Homo sapiens: one gene and its partner. The protein of the gene in region 2 purifies or fractionates together with the protein of the main gene of each other region. This does not show direct contact. Each region holds a gene or a part of one and is shown on either strand. Other genes may lie near its edges.

The links. Proteins that work in one complex are often made in the same cells at the same time.
Region 1: the proteins of TMEM62 (region 2) and NPLOC4 purify together in Homo sapiens (affinity purification with mass spectrometry; 2 studies listed by BioGRID and IntAct, with this or other methods). This does not show direct contact.

Annotation. Positions count from the first base shown.
Region 1 is NC_000017.11:81,627,113-81,634,138, forward strand, and holds part of NPLOC4 (nuclear protein localization protein 4 homolog), read right to left. Parts: intron 2,694-7,026; coding exon 2,613-2,693; intron 1-2,612. UniProt on the Homo sapiens protein: The ternary complex containing UFD1, VCP and NPLOC4 binds ubiquitinated proteins and is necessary for the export of misfolded proteins from the ER to the cytoplasm, where they are degraded by the proteasome.
Region 2 is NC_000015.10:43,136,581-43,143,606, reverse strand, and holds part of TMEM62 (transmembrane protein 62), read right to left. Parts: intron 5,034-7,026; coding exon 4,988-5,033; intron 1-4,987.

The DNA.
Region 1 (7,026 bases), on a different chromosome or scaffold from region 2:
AGGTGTGGTGGCTCACTCTTGTAATCCCGGCACATTGGGAGGCCGAGGCAGGCGGATCATGAGGTCAGGAGATCGAGACCATCCTCACTAACACAGTGAAACCCCATCTCTACTAAAAACACAAAAAACATTAGCCGGGCATGGTGGCGGGTGCCTGTAGTCCCAGCTACTCGGGAGGCTGAGGCAGGGAAATGGCATGAACCTGGGAGGCAGAGCTTGCAGTGAGCCGAGATCGCGCCACTGCATTCCAGCCTGGGCAACAGAAAGACTCCGTCTCAAAAAAAAAAAAAAATTGATGCATGGTGGGGAACAAAAATGAACTGTCAACTCAGAAATCTGTTTTGAGGCCAGGTGCAGTGGCTCACGCCTGTAACCCCAGCACTTTGGGAGGCCAAGGCGGGTGGATCACCTGAGGTCAGGAGTTCGAGACCAGCCTGACCAACATGGTGAAACTCCATCTCTATTAAAAAGACAAACTTAGCCGGACTTGGTGGCGTATGCCTGTAATCCCAGCTACTCGGAAGGCTGAGGCAGAATTGCTTGAACCCGGGAGGCTGAGGCAGGAGAATTGCTTGAACACAGGAGGCAGAGGCTGCAATGAGCCAAGATCATGCCATCACACTCCAGCCTGGGCAACAAGAGCGAAACTCTGTCTCAAAAAACAAAAACAAAAATTAGCCAGGTATTGTGGTGCACACCTGTAATCCCAGCTACTTGGGAGGCTGAGGCAGGAGAACTGCTGGAACCCAGGAGGCGGAGGTTGCACTGAGCCGAGATCACGCCACCACATTCCAGCCTGGGCGACAGAAAAAGACTCCATCTCAAAAAAAGAAATTTGTATTGAATGAAAATATCCTTGGGAGGCCAAGGCGGGCAGATCACGAGGTCAGGAGATGAAGACCATCCTGGCTAACATGGTGAAATCCCGTCTCTACTAAAAATACAAAAAATTAGCCAGGCATGGTGGTGGGCGCCTGTAGTCCAGCTACTCGGGAGGCTGAGGCAGGAGAGTGGCGTGAACCCGGGAGGCGGAGCTTGCAGTGAGCCAAGATCATGCCACTGCATTCCAGCCTTGGAGACAGAGCGAGACTCCCTCTCATAAAAAAAAAAAGAAAAAAAAAAGAAAAAGAAAATATATCCTTCATGGCTGGGCACGGTGGCTCACACTGAAGCGGGTGGATCACGAGGTCGGGAGTTCAAGACCAGCATGGTGAAGATAGTGAAACCCCGTCTCTACTAAAAATACAAAAAATTAGTCAGGTATGGTGGCGGGTGCCTGTAATCCTAGCTACTCGAGAGGCTTAGGCAGAGGATTGCTTGAACCCAGGAGGCAGAGGTTGCAGTGAGCCGAGATCATGCCACTGCACTCCAGCCTGGGCAACAGAGTGAGATGCCATCTCAAAAAAAAAGAAAATAACCCTCATATAAACACAGGGCAAAACGAAAACATTTTCAGGTCAAAAAAACCCAAAGGTCTGTGACCAACAAACCTACCTACAACAAAGGCTAATGGATGTTTTTCAGTCTGAAGAGAAACAACACCAGACAGAAATAGTCTGGGGGAATCCATGGGAAAAGTAAATAAGGAAGAAACTGTGAAGATAAGCTAAGAAGTACATAATATGCAACTATCACAGTAAATGAAATATTTTGTGATTGGTTAAAAAAAGAAAAACTGTCATGGGAATCCTGGACACAATGCAGGTCAGGAGACCAGGGAGGAGCCAGGGATGATTCTTTGAGTCAACTGTAGTCATATCTACAATTCATACTTTTTTTTTTTTTTGAGACAGTCTCACTCTGTCGCCCAGGCTGGAGTGCAGTGGCGCGATCTCAGCTCACTGCAAGCTCCGCCTCCTGGGTTCACATCATTCTCCTGCCTCAGCCTCACCAGCAGCTGGGACTACAGGTGCCCGCCACCACACCCGGCTAATTTTTTGTATTTTTACTAGAGATAGGGTTTCACCATGTTAGCCAGGATGGTCTCAATCTCCTGACCTTGTGATCCGCCCGCCTCGGCCTCCCAAAGTGCTGCGATTACAGGCGTCAGCCACTGCGCCTGGCCACTCTTATGAAATACTTTTTTTTTTTTTTTTTTGAGATGGAGTCTCACTCTGTTGCCCAGGTTGGAGTGCAGTGGCACCACCTCGACTCACTGTAAACTCTGCCTTCTGAGTCAAGCAATTCTCTTGCCTCAGCTTCCCAAGTAGCTGGGATTACAGGCACCTACCACCACGCCCGACTAATTTTTGTATTTTTAGTAGACGGGGTTTCACCATCTTGGCCAGGCTGGTCTTGAACTCCTCACTTCGTGATCCACCCGCCTTGGTCTCCCGAAGTGCTGGGATTACAGGTGTGAGCCACCACGCCCAGCCGTGAAATATTTTTACACTTACCTTTGGGCTCTTGGTCCTATAATTTTGAGCAGTGATCAGCTGTGACAAACATCTCATCCTATAGCAATCCAACCCAACTGTGATAGAGAAAGGCAATGCAAGAGGCAATTTGGGAATAGGGAAAATAAGAAAACGAGGAAAAGAGAAAAGGTATCGATGGCAGTAAGAGTAGAGGATGAAAAATATCCTGAGGGTCAATACCCAGGCCACAGATACCTTTTTCAAAAATGTTGCTGCTGTTTCTCTCTTTGTTGCTGTGATCCGCTTCACTCCATCCGGGGACTGGACACGAATTATCTGTTGCAAACAAAACATGATGGTTACTGCACAGCCTAGTGAGGTCCTGATCTAATACTACGGCTTCCATCTGTGGTCTTTTAGCATCTGGGTCACTGAAAATTAAAGCCAAACCTCACTCTTCACCTTTCAATACCCAGCTCAATCCTTCTAGAATATGATGCCGAGGGGTGAGATTCATCAACATATGGGGAGATATTTTAAGAGTACTGTCCTCTCAACTCTTAGTTTCACTCAGAAAACAACTTTAATTCCTAATCACTATTTATAGAGTATATGTAAAACACTTTTTGTCTCTTCAGACTTAAAACAGAGAAAAACCCACCATGAACCATGAATGAACTGTGTTCTTTAAAAAAGATGTTACTTTGGGGAAAAAAAAAAAAAAAAGATGTTACTTTGTTCCAGGATCTATATACAAACATTAGACAGTCTTCAAGAGTCCTACAATTTAAAAGAATCACAGGAAATTTTCTAATTGTTACTTTTTTTTTGCTTTTTTGAGACAGGGTCTTGCTGTCACCCAGGCTGGAGTGCAGTGGCAAAATCACAGCTTACTGCAGCCTTGACATCCAAGGTTCAAGTGATCCTCTGACCTCAGCCTCCCGAGAGCTGGAACCACAGGCTTGCACCACCACACCAGGTTAATTTTTTTTTTTGTAGTGACGGAGTGTCATATTTCCCAGGCTGATCTCGAGCTCCGGGGCTCAAGTGATCCTGCCACTGTGCTGGGATTACAGGTGTGAGCCACAACGCCAGCTATTACTTACTTTCCCTAAAAAACGTTTAAAAATGGCCAGACACAGTGGCTCACGTCTGTAATTGTAGCACTTTGGGAGGCCAAGGCGGTGGATCACTTGAGCTCAGAAGTTCAAGACCAGTGGGCAACATGGGGAAACCCCATCTCTACTAAAAATACAAGTTAGCCAGGCATGGTGGCGTACGCCTATGGTCTCAGCTACTTGGGGAGCTGAGGCACGAGGATCACTTAAACCAGGGAGGTCGAGGCTACAGTGAGCCAAGATGGTGCCACTGCACTCCAGCATTGGTGACAAAGTGAGACCCTGTCTCAAAAAAAGAGATTAGGCTGGGCACAGTGGCTCCTGCCTGTAATCCCAGCACTTTGGGAGGCCAATGCGGGCAGATCACCTGAGGTCAGGAGTTCGAGACCAGCCTGGCCAACATGGTGAAACCCCGTCTCTACTAAAAATACAAAAATTAGCTGGGCGTGGTGGCGGGCACCTGTAATCCCAGCTACCCGGGAGGCTGAGGCAGGAGAATCGCTTGAACCCAGGAGGCAGAGGTTGCAGTGAGCCAAGATCGTGCCATTGCGTGACGAAGAGCAAGACTTCGTCTCAAAAAAAAAGTAAAAATTTAAACTTAAAAAAGAAATTAAAATTAAAAGCAATAAAGGTCTTTAATGGTAAAATTTAGTAGGGTTTTGAAAAAATATTTTCAGCTGGGCACAGTGGCTCACACCTATAATCTGTGCACTTCAGGAGACCAAGGCAGGAAGATCTCTTTAGCCTAGGAATTCGAGATCAGCCTGGCCAACACAGCGAGACCCCATCCTAATTTAATAACGTGTGTGTGCATATATGCATATTAAAGTGTACATATATATATATATATTTTTTTTTTTTTTTTTTTTTTTTTTCCCCCACGGCAAGCCTAAAAAGGTTGGCAGATCTGGAAGACTACTGGACAAAGGGCATTACTTTCTAAGACAACTTGATGTTTATGCTGATGAAAGCCATCGTGAAGGTGAGTTATCATGCCTGGCCAACAGCACAGGCCCCTGCTTTAGACAAGGAGGATGACATGGCATGCTCTGCAGCAAACAAAGACCTGCTCCAACCATCCGCGGGACGGGAAGGAAGGCAGACAGGAACATGCGCATAAGTGTCCTAGCTTCTCCTCTCAGCAAAGACTGATGGTGCATTCTATAGCTTCTTTCTCTCTCATTTCCTGCATTACCATCTCTTGTATTTAGCTCATTTTTTTTTTCCCCGAGATGAAGTTTCAATCTTGTGGCCCAGGCTGGAGTACAATGGCGCAATCTTGGCTCACTGCAACCTCTGCCTCTTGAGTTCAAGTGATTCTCCTGCCTCAGCCTCCTGAGTAGCTGGAATCACAGGCGCCCACCACCATACCCAGCTAATTTTCTTTTTTTTGAGACAGTCTTTTTCCGTTGCCCAGGGTGGAGTGCAGTGGCGCAATCTCGGCTCACTGCAACCTCCACTCACTGCAACCTCCGCCTCCCAGGTTCAGGCGATTCTCCTGTCTCAGCCTCCTGAGCAGCTGGGATTACAGGCGTGCACCACCAAGCCCAGCTAATTTTTGTATTTTTAGTAGAGACGGGGTTTCAACATGTTAGTCAATCTGGTCTTAAACGCCTACCTCAGGTGATCCACCTGCCTCAGCCTCCTAAAGTGCTGGGATTATAGGCATGAGCCACCAACCCTGGCCTAGCTGATTTTTTATAGTGAAACATTTCAATTCCCTTATTTCCTTTTTTATTTCTTTTTTTTTTTTCAGCTCTTGTTGCCCAGGCTGGAGTGCAATGGCGTGATCTCGGCTCACTGCAACCTCTGCCTCCCCGGTTCAAGTGATTCTCCTGTCTCAGCCTCCTGAGTATCTGGGATTACAAGTGCCTGCCACCACGCCTGGCTAATTTTTAGTATTTTTAGTAGAGATGGGATTTCACCACGTTGGCCAGGCTGGTCTCGAACTCCTGACCTCAAGTTATCCACCCACCTGGGCCTCCCAAAGTGCTGGGATTACAGGTGTGCACCACCACACCCGGCCTCCCTTATTTCCTTTTTCATAAATTCTATAACTATTTTCTGTGAGGTTACCACGAGTGTTACATTAAACATCCTCTTCAACCATTATGCAGATGAAAACTGTCACAAGCCATTGTCTAAAAAAGATTTCCACTGATACAGGACAAAACACCATAAAGGCTCAGTCTACTGGGATTTGTCCGCTTTTAGTAAAGTAACTAAGCCTAATCTAGATTTTCCTAAAATAGGATAACCCTGTCCTGCATTTTCCCATAACTTTCACTTGGCAGAAAAGGCTCCACCCAATATGTTCTCAACTTTTAAGTCAGGAGATTGAGACCATCCTGGCTAACACGGTGAAACCCCATCTCTACTAAAAATACAAAACATTAGCCAGGCGTGGTGGAGGGCGCCTGTAGTCCCAGCTACTTGGGAGGCTGAGGTAGGAGAATGGCGTGAACCCAGGAGGCAGAGCTTGTGGTGAGCAGATCGCGCCACTGCACTCCAGCCTGGGTGACAGAGCAAGACTCCGTCTCAAAAAAAAAAAAAAAAAGAAAAGAAATACAATTCTTTATACTTCTAACGTCTAGTATACTTCATTCTAGATTCAATACCCCAGAAAAACGTTTTCACAATATATAGCATTAGGTAAATACTTCCACTTATTTGTTTCTAAAATCTGTCTGCCAACACTTAGCTATCTTAAAAAGGAAAGCTCTGTTCTAATGAAGGGGAACATGTGAATGTTCCTTCAAACGATGACTCTGGAACAAGAGCATGTTACCGCCATTCTTTACAGAGCTAAATGGTTCAGGCTGCAGAATTCTAAGGTGAAGAAGTCATCCTACTTGATCCTCTACCACAGAAGATGGGAGTCCAGGTTTCCAAGGCCAACTCCAGTATTTAACAAGAGACAAACATAATTTGTACGATGGAAAGTTCTGGCCTAGCCTCTGACACAGACTACAAAATGAAATACACAGGAAGAGACAGACCTGACAACATGAACACACAGCCTCTTGGTAACTTAAGTTTCCCTATTTATAAGAAAATAAGACTAGAACGCTTCTTGGGGAAGTTGAAGAACTGGTGAGATACAGTTAAATCCACAGAAACTCTTTTCTCCCCCCAAGACAGAGTCTTGCTCTGTCACCCAGAGTGGGAGTGCGATGGCGCGACCTCGGTTCACTGCAACCTTTGCCTGCCGAGTTCAAGCAATTCTCTTGCCTCAAGCCTCCCAAGTAGCTGGGATTATAGGCGCCCGCCACCGCGCCCAGCTAATTTTTTTTTTTTTTTTAAGAGTCTCACTCTGTCACCCAGGCTGGAGTGCAGTGGTGCGATCTCGGCTCACTGCAATCTCCGCCTCCCGGGTTCTAACTTTTCTGCCTCAGCCTCCTGAGTGGCTGGGACTACAGGTGCACGCCACCACGCCCGGTTAATTTTTTGTATTTTTTTTTTTTAGTAGACGTGGGGTTTCACCGTGTTGCCCAGGCTGGTCTCAAACTCCTGAGCTCAGGCAATCCACCTGCCTCGGCCTTCCAAAGTGC
Region 2 (7,026 bases):
CCAGTGACCTCAGTAGTGTGGCTGACAAGCTCTGATATAAATGACTTTTCCTATGTATCAATGACTTAAACAATTTTTTAAGCCCGTGTGGAATATTAAAAGTACCATTAGCCAAAACAAAGCATTAAACTGCATGCATATTTCAGAGATATTGTGGTTCCTGACACCACAATAAAGCAAATATTGCAAAAAAGCGAGTCACATGAATTTTTTGGTTTCCCAGTGTGTATGAAAGTTATGTTTACGGCTGGGCGTAGTGGCTTATGCCTGTAATCTCAGCACTTTTGGAGGCCAAGGCAGGCAGATCACTTGAGGTCAGGAGTTTGAGACCAGCCTGGCCAACATGGCAAAACTCTGTCTCTACTAAAAATACAAAAATTATCCAGGCATGGTGGCACATGCCTGTAGTCCCAGCTACTCAGGAGGCTGAGCCAGGAGACTCGCTTGAACCAGGGAGGTGGAGGTTGCAGTGAGCCAAGATGGTGCCACTGCACTCCAGCCTGGGCAACAGAGCAAGATCCTGTCTCAAAAGAAAAAAAAAAAGTTATGTTTACACCATACTATAGTCTATTTAGTGTGCAATTGCATCATGTCTAGAAAAACAATGCACATACCTTAATTTATAAATACTTCTACTGACTGGGCATGGTGGCTCACGCCTGTTACCCTAGCACTTTGGGAGGCCGAGGTGAGTGGATCACTTGAGCCCAGGAGTTCAAGACTAGCCTGGGCAACATTTAGAAACCCTGTCTCTATAAAAAACACAGTAATTAGCCAGGCATGGTGGCTCACGCCTGTGGTCCCAGCTACCCGAGAGGCTGAGGTGGGAGGATCACTTTGAGCCTGGAAGGTGGAGATTGCAGTGAGCTGAGATCGCGCCATTGCACTCCAGCCTGGGTGACAGAGAGACCCTGTCTCAAAAAAAAAACCAAAAAAACAAAAAAAAACCTTACTGCTAAAAATGCTAATGATCATCTGAGCCTTCAGCGAGTCAAAATCTTTTTACTGGTGGAGGGTCTTGTTTTGACGTTGGTGGCTGCTGACTGATCAGGGTGGTGGTTGGGGTGGCTGTGGTAATTTCTTAAAATAAGGTAACCATGAAGTTTGCTACATCAATTGACTTTTCCTTTCACAAGAATTTCTTGGCCGGGCGCGGTGGCTCACCCCTGTAATCCCAGCACTTTGGGAGGCCGAGGTGGGCAGATCACGAGGTCAGGAGTTCAAGACCAGCCTGGCCAATATGGTGAAACCCTGTCTCTACTAAAATATAAAAATTAGCGGGTCATGGTGGCAGGCGCCTGTAGTCCCAGCTACTTAGGAGGCTGAGGCAGGAGAATTGCTTGAACCCGGGAGGCGGAGGTTGCAGTGAGCCAAGATCGCACCACTGCACCCCAGCCTGGGTGACAGAGCAAGCCTCCATCTCAAAAAAAAAAAAAAAAAAAGAATTTCTCTATAGCATGCAATGCTGCTTGATAGCATTTTACCCAAAGAAATCCAATCCTCTCCAACACTGTTATTGCTTTATCAACTAAGTTTATGTATAATTCTAAATCCTTTGTTGTCATTTCAAAAATGTTCACACCATATTTAGAAGGAGTAGATTCCTTCTCAAGAAACCACTTTTTCTGCTCATCCATAAGAAGCAACTTGTCATCTGTTCAAGTTTTATCATAAGATTGCAGCAATTTAGTCACCTCTTCAGGCTCCACTTCTAATTCTAGTTCTCTTGCTATTTCCACATTTACAGTTCTTCCTCCACTGAAGTCTTGAACCCCTCAAAGTCATCCATGAGGGTTGGAATCAACTTCTTCCCTCCTGTTCATGTTGTTATTTTAACCTCCTCCCATTAATTGCAACTGTTCTTAATGGCATCTAGAATGGTGAATCCTTTCCATAAATTTTTCAATTGACTGCCCACATCCATCAGAGGAATCATAATCTAAGGCAGCTATAGTCTTATGAAATGTGTTTCTTAAATAGTAAGAGTTGAAAGTTGAAATTACTCCTTGATCCATTGGCTATAGAATGAATACTGCGCTAGCAGGCATGAAAATAACATTCATCTCCTTGTACATCTTCCTCAGAGCTCTTGCGTGACCAGGTGCATTGTCAATGACCATTGATATTTTGAAGGGAATATTTTTTTCTGAGCAGTAGTTCTCAATAGTGGACTTAAAATATTCAGTAAACCATGCTGTAAAGAGATGTGCTATTATTATCCAGGCTTTGTTGTTCCATATATAGAACACAGGCAGAGTAGATTTAGCATAACGCTTAAGCACCCAAGGATTTTCAGAATGGTAAGTGGGCATTGGCTCCACTTAAAGTCATCAGCTATGGAGCAGGAACCCACATCCAGGAACAGAGCCCTTTGCTCCTCCCTCAGAATGAATGGAGACCAGAAATCAGACATTTCTGTCCAAGAAAAGCAGGATTTCATTCAGTGCTTCTCCCAGATTGTTAGGGTGCTGACTGAGGATGAGATGGGGCACCCAGAGACAGGAGATGCTATCACCCAGCTCACGGAGGTCCTGTAGTACAATGCCATTGGAGGCAAGTATCACTGGGCTTTGATGGTGCTAGTAGCATTCTGGGAGCTGGTGGAGCCGAGGAAACAGGATACTGAGAGTCTCCAGCGGGCCCTGACTATGGGCTCGTGTGTGGAACTGCTGCAAGCTTTCTTCCTGGTGGCAAATGACATCATGGATTCATCCCTCACCCACTGGGGACAGATCTGCTGATATCAGAAGCCGGGCGCGGGTTTGGATGCCATCAATGTTGCTATGCTTCTGGAAGGGAAGCATGTATGTACCGCCTGCTGAAGCTCTATTGCCATGAGCAGCCCTATTACCTGAACCTGATCCAGCTCTTCCGGCAGAGTTTCTATCAGACTGAGATTGGGCAGACCCTGGATCTCATCATAGCCCCCCAGGGCAATGTGGATCTTGGCAGATTCACTGAAAAGAGGTACAAATCTAGTGTCACGTACAAGGCAGTTTCTACTCCTTCTACCTTCCTGTAGCTGCAGCCATGTATATGCAGGTATTGATAGAGAGAAGGAGAATACCAATGCCAAGAAGATCCTGCTGGAGATGGGAGAGGGAGAGTTCTTTCAGATCAGGATGATTACCCTCACCTCTTTGGGGACCCCAATGTGACCGCCAAAGTTGGCACTGACATCCAGGACAACAAATGCAGCTGGCTGGTGGTTCAGTGTCTGCAACGGGCCACTCCAGAACAGTACCAGATTCTGAAGGAGAATTTTGGGCAGAAGGAGGCCGAGAAGGTGGCCCCGGTGAAGGCAGTATATGAGGAGCTGGATCTGCCGGCCATGTTCTTGCAATAATAGGAAGACAGTTACAGCCACGTTATGGGTCTCATTGAACAGTACGCAGCTCCCCTGCCCCCAGTCATCTTTCTGGGGTTGGCGCGCAAAATCTACAAGCGGAAAAAGTGACCTAGAGACTGCAAGGGTGGGGAGAGGAGGCCCTAAATAAATTATTGTGCAACTTTCTCAACAACAACAAAAAAAAATCAGCTGCATGGACCTCTAGCAATAGTCAGCCCATCCTTTGAAGCCAGGGATTGACTTTTCTCTAGCTATAAAAGTCCTAGATGGCATCTTCTTCCAAAAGAAGGCTGTTTCATTTACATGGAAAATCTGTTGTTTAGCGCAGCCACCTTCATCAATTATCTTAGCTAGATCTTCTGGGTCACTTGCTGCAGCTTCTCCATCAATCAGCACTTGCTGCGTCACACTGCATATTTATGTTATGGAGTTAACTTCTTTCCTTAAACCTCATGAACCAAACTCTGCCAGCTTCCAACTTTTCTTCTGCTGCTTCCTTACCTCTCTCAGCCTTCATAGAATTGAAGGGAGTTAGGATCTTGCTCTGGATTAGGCTTTGGCTTAAGTGAATGTTGTAGGTGGTTTGATTGTCTATCCAGAACACGAAAACGTTCTCCACATCAGCAGTAGGACTGTTTCACTTTCTAATCATTCATCTGTTCACTGGAGGAGCACTTTTAATTTCCTTCAAGAACTTTTCCTTTGCCTTCACAACTTGGCTCACTGCTCCAGCTCAAGAGGCCTAGCTTTCAGCCTATCTGAAAGCCTTTCAACAGCCTTCCTCACCAAGCTTCATCATTTCTACCTTTTGATTTAAAGTGAGAGATGTTGGGCCCTTCCTTTCACTTGAACACTTAGAGGCCATTGTAGGGTTATTAACTGGCCTAATTTTAATATTGTTGTGTCTCAGGGAATGGGGAGGCTGGAGGAGAGGGAGAGAGATGGGAGAACAGCTGATTGGTGCAGCACTCAGAACACATACAGCACTTATTGATTAAGTTCCTGGACTTATATGGGCAAGGTTTGTAGCACCCCAAAACAATTACAATAGTAACATCAAAGGTCACTGATCACAGATCACCATAAAAGATATAATGAAAAAGTTTGAAATATTGTGAGAATTACCAAAATGAGACACAGAGACAGGAAGTGAGCACATGCTGTTGGAAAAATGGCTCCCATAGACTTGCTCAAGGCAGGCTTGCCACAAACTCTCAATTTGAAAAAATGCAACATCTGCAAAGTGCAATAAGGCGAAGCATAATAAAACGAGGTATGCCTGTATATGAAACAGAAAGAATTAAAGGAAAGAAAAACTCTAAACAAAAAGAAATGCATCTGTCACAAAAAGACAAAAAGGCTCATTTTTTAAATTACTAGAGATTCTTTATAGAAAAATTTTACCTGTTAAAAAATGTTTTCAGCTAGGCACAGTAGCATGTGCCTGCAGCCCCAGCTACACAGGAGTCTGAGGCAGGAGGATCGTTTGAGCTCAGTTCAGAGCTAGCCTGGGCAAAATAGCGAGACCCCTGCCTCTTAAAATGTTTTTTTAAAGTTTTCTCTCATTCATTGAGTTGACCACACCCTCCTTATAACACTGACTCTACATAGTGGTCTGTCTTCTGTTTATTACAGTACCTGTAATAATTCTTGATGCTGTCCAGACTTGGAATATTGAATGCATCTAATTTAAAAAAAAAAAAAAAGCAAACATTCATCCACATTAAAAAAAGAATACAAACATTTTCTTTAATGACTAAGGGAAAATAATTCTTTCTATAACAATTCTTCCACACACACCCCCAGGGTAGAGCCGTTCCATTTATTATTCAGCAAACAGTGGGAGGACTAGGAGAGGGGCACATCCTGGACAACCTCCCATTATTGCCATGGGTTTCAGTTTGCTTCCCCCACCTAGAAGTGCTTAGCCTAAGGAAAGGGTAGACTCAGCCCCTGACTCAGAACAGAGTCCAGATGGCCCTGGCCCTACCAGCAATTCATGAACTCCCACCATGGCCCATCTCTCTAGGGCCACTGAGCCTCTCCTAGAACCAGTATGGCTAGACTCAGGGTTGCTGAGTCCAATCCAAGCAGGTTAGGCTCCAAGTTCTAGACCCTAGTCTGGCTAAAACCCTGGAATCTTGATTCCAGGATGTGGGTGGGATGGACTTAGGTCCCAAGCTCCAGGCTAAGCCAGGGGCCTTCAGGGCTGCAGCAGGTAGCTGCCTTCATGGCTAGGTTTCTTGGGCAGTGGTACCTTTTCAGGATAGGGGCCAGGGCTGGAGTTGGGACTAAATCTGTAGAGACAGTCAATATTGGCATAGCAAGAGTGTAGGCCCGGCAGAGAATGACTCGGAGCAGAAGCAGCAAGAAGCCTATGAGGCGTTGCAGATGACGGCAATGAACACCCCCTGGGAAATGGCTGCCCCCATGACAGGCAGCCCACCCTCAGACCAGCACAGACAGTAGAGCTGCCTCAATGGCAAGGCCTGTGCCAAGGTGGGACTCTGGTATGACCAGCCTTCCATGGAGGCTGTCCTGTCTACACACTCCATGATTCCCGGGCAGTGGAGATGTCCACCTGCAGTCTTAAGCCAAAGTACAGCCCGGTGCACATCTGTGGGAGGGTTGGGACAGTGGGATGTTCAGATTTAACTGAGGCTCCAGCAGGGGCAACTGGCCCACCGCAAGCTCTCTGCCTCTGCTGGCACAGACTTAGCTAGGCATGGCGTGACTGTAGCAGCCTCTGTCATCTTTCTATAACACTTTTAATGGCAGAATGCCAATCAATTAGATTGATACTTTAAAATTTTGATATCTTAACAAAATTCAGATTATCTAGAAACTTATTTAAGGCACTTAGTATACTAGAGAAAAACAGGTACTTTGAATTCTATACCACTCAGAATAAATAACTTTGAAATTATAAGATTGAACTGTAGTTGCTCTTGTCTTAATCATGTGATTCTAAAAGCCAGCAAGAAGTGGATTCATGCCTGATCTACTGATCAGATAAAGTAGACAAATGAAGTACTTAGCTAATAAAAAAGTCAACCTTTATAAATCAAACAAATACACTACCATCAGGACTCTTTTGGAGAAGAGTTCATTTCCTTACCAACACAATGATAATCTTAAAAAGGGAAAGGATTATCCATTTCCCTGTTCATGCCTATGGAGATTTGTTTGCAATTTAAACTTTTTAAGCTAGGTGCAGTGACTCACACCTGTAATCCCAGCACTTTGGGAGAATGAGGTAGGAGGATCACTTGAGCCCAGGAGTTTGAGATCAGCCTAAGCAACATAGCAAGAACCCAACTCCACAAAAAAAAACTTCAAAAATTAGCAGGGTATGGTGATGCATGCTTGTAGTCCCAGCTACTTGTGGGGCTGAGGTGGGAGGATCATTTAAGCTCAGGTCAAGGCTGCAATGAGCTATACTCACACCACTGCACTCCAGGCTGAGTGACAGAGCAAGACCCTGTCAAAAAAATAATAATAAGCCAGGCGTGGTGGCTCACGCCTGTAATCCCACCACTTTAGAAGGCTGAGCAGGGGCAGATCATTTGAGGTCAGGAGTTCGAGATCAGCCTGGCCAATGTGGTGAAACCCCACCTCTTCTAAAAATACCAAAAAAAAAAAAAAATTAACTGGGCAGGGTGGTACCTGTCTGTAAT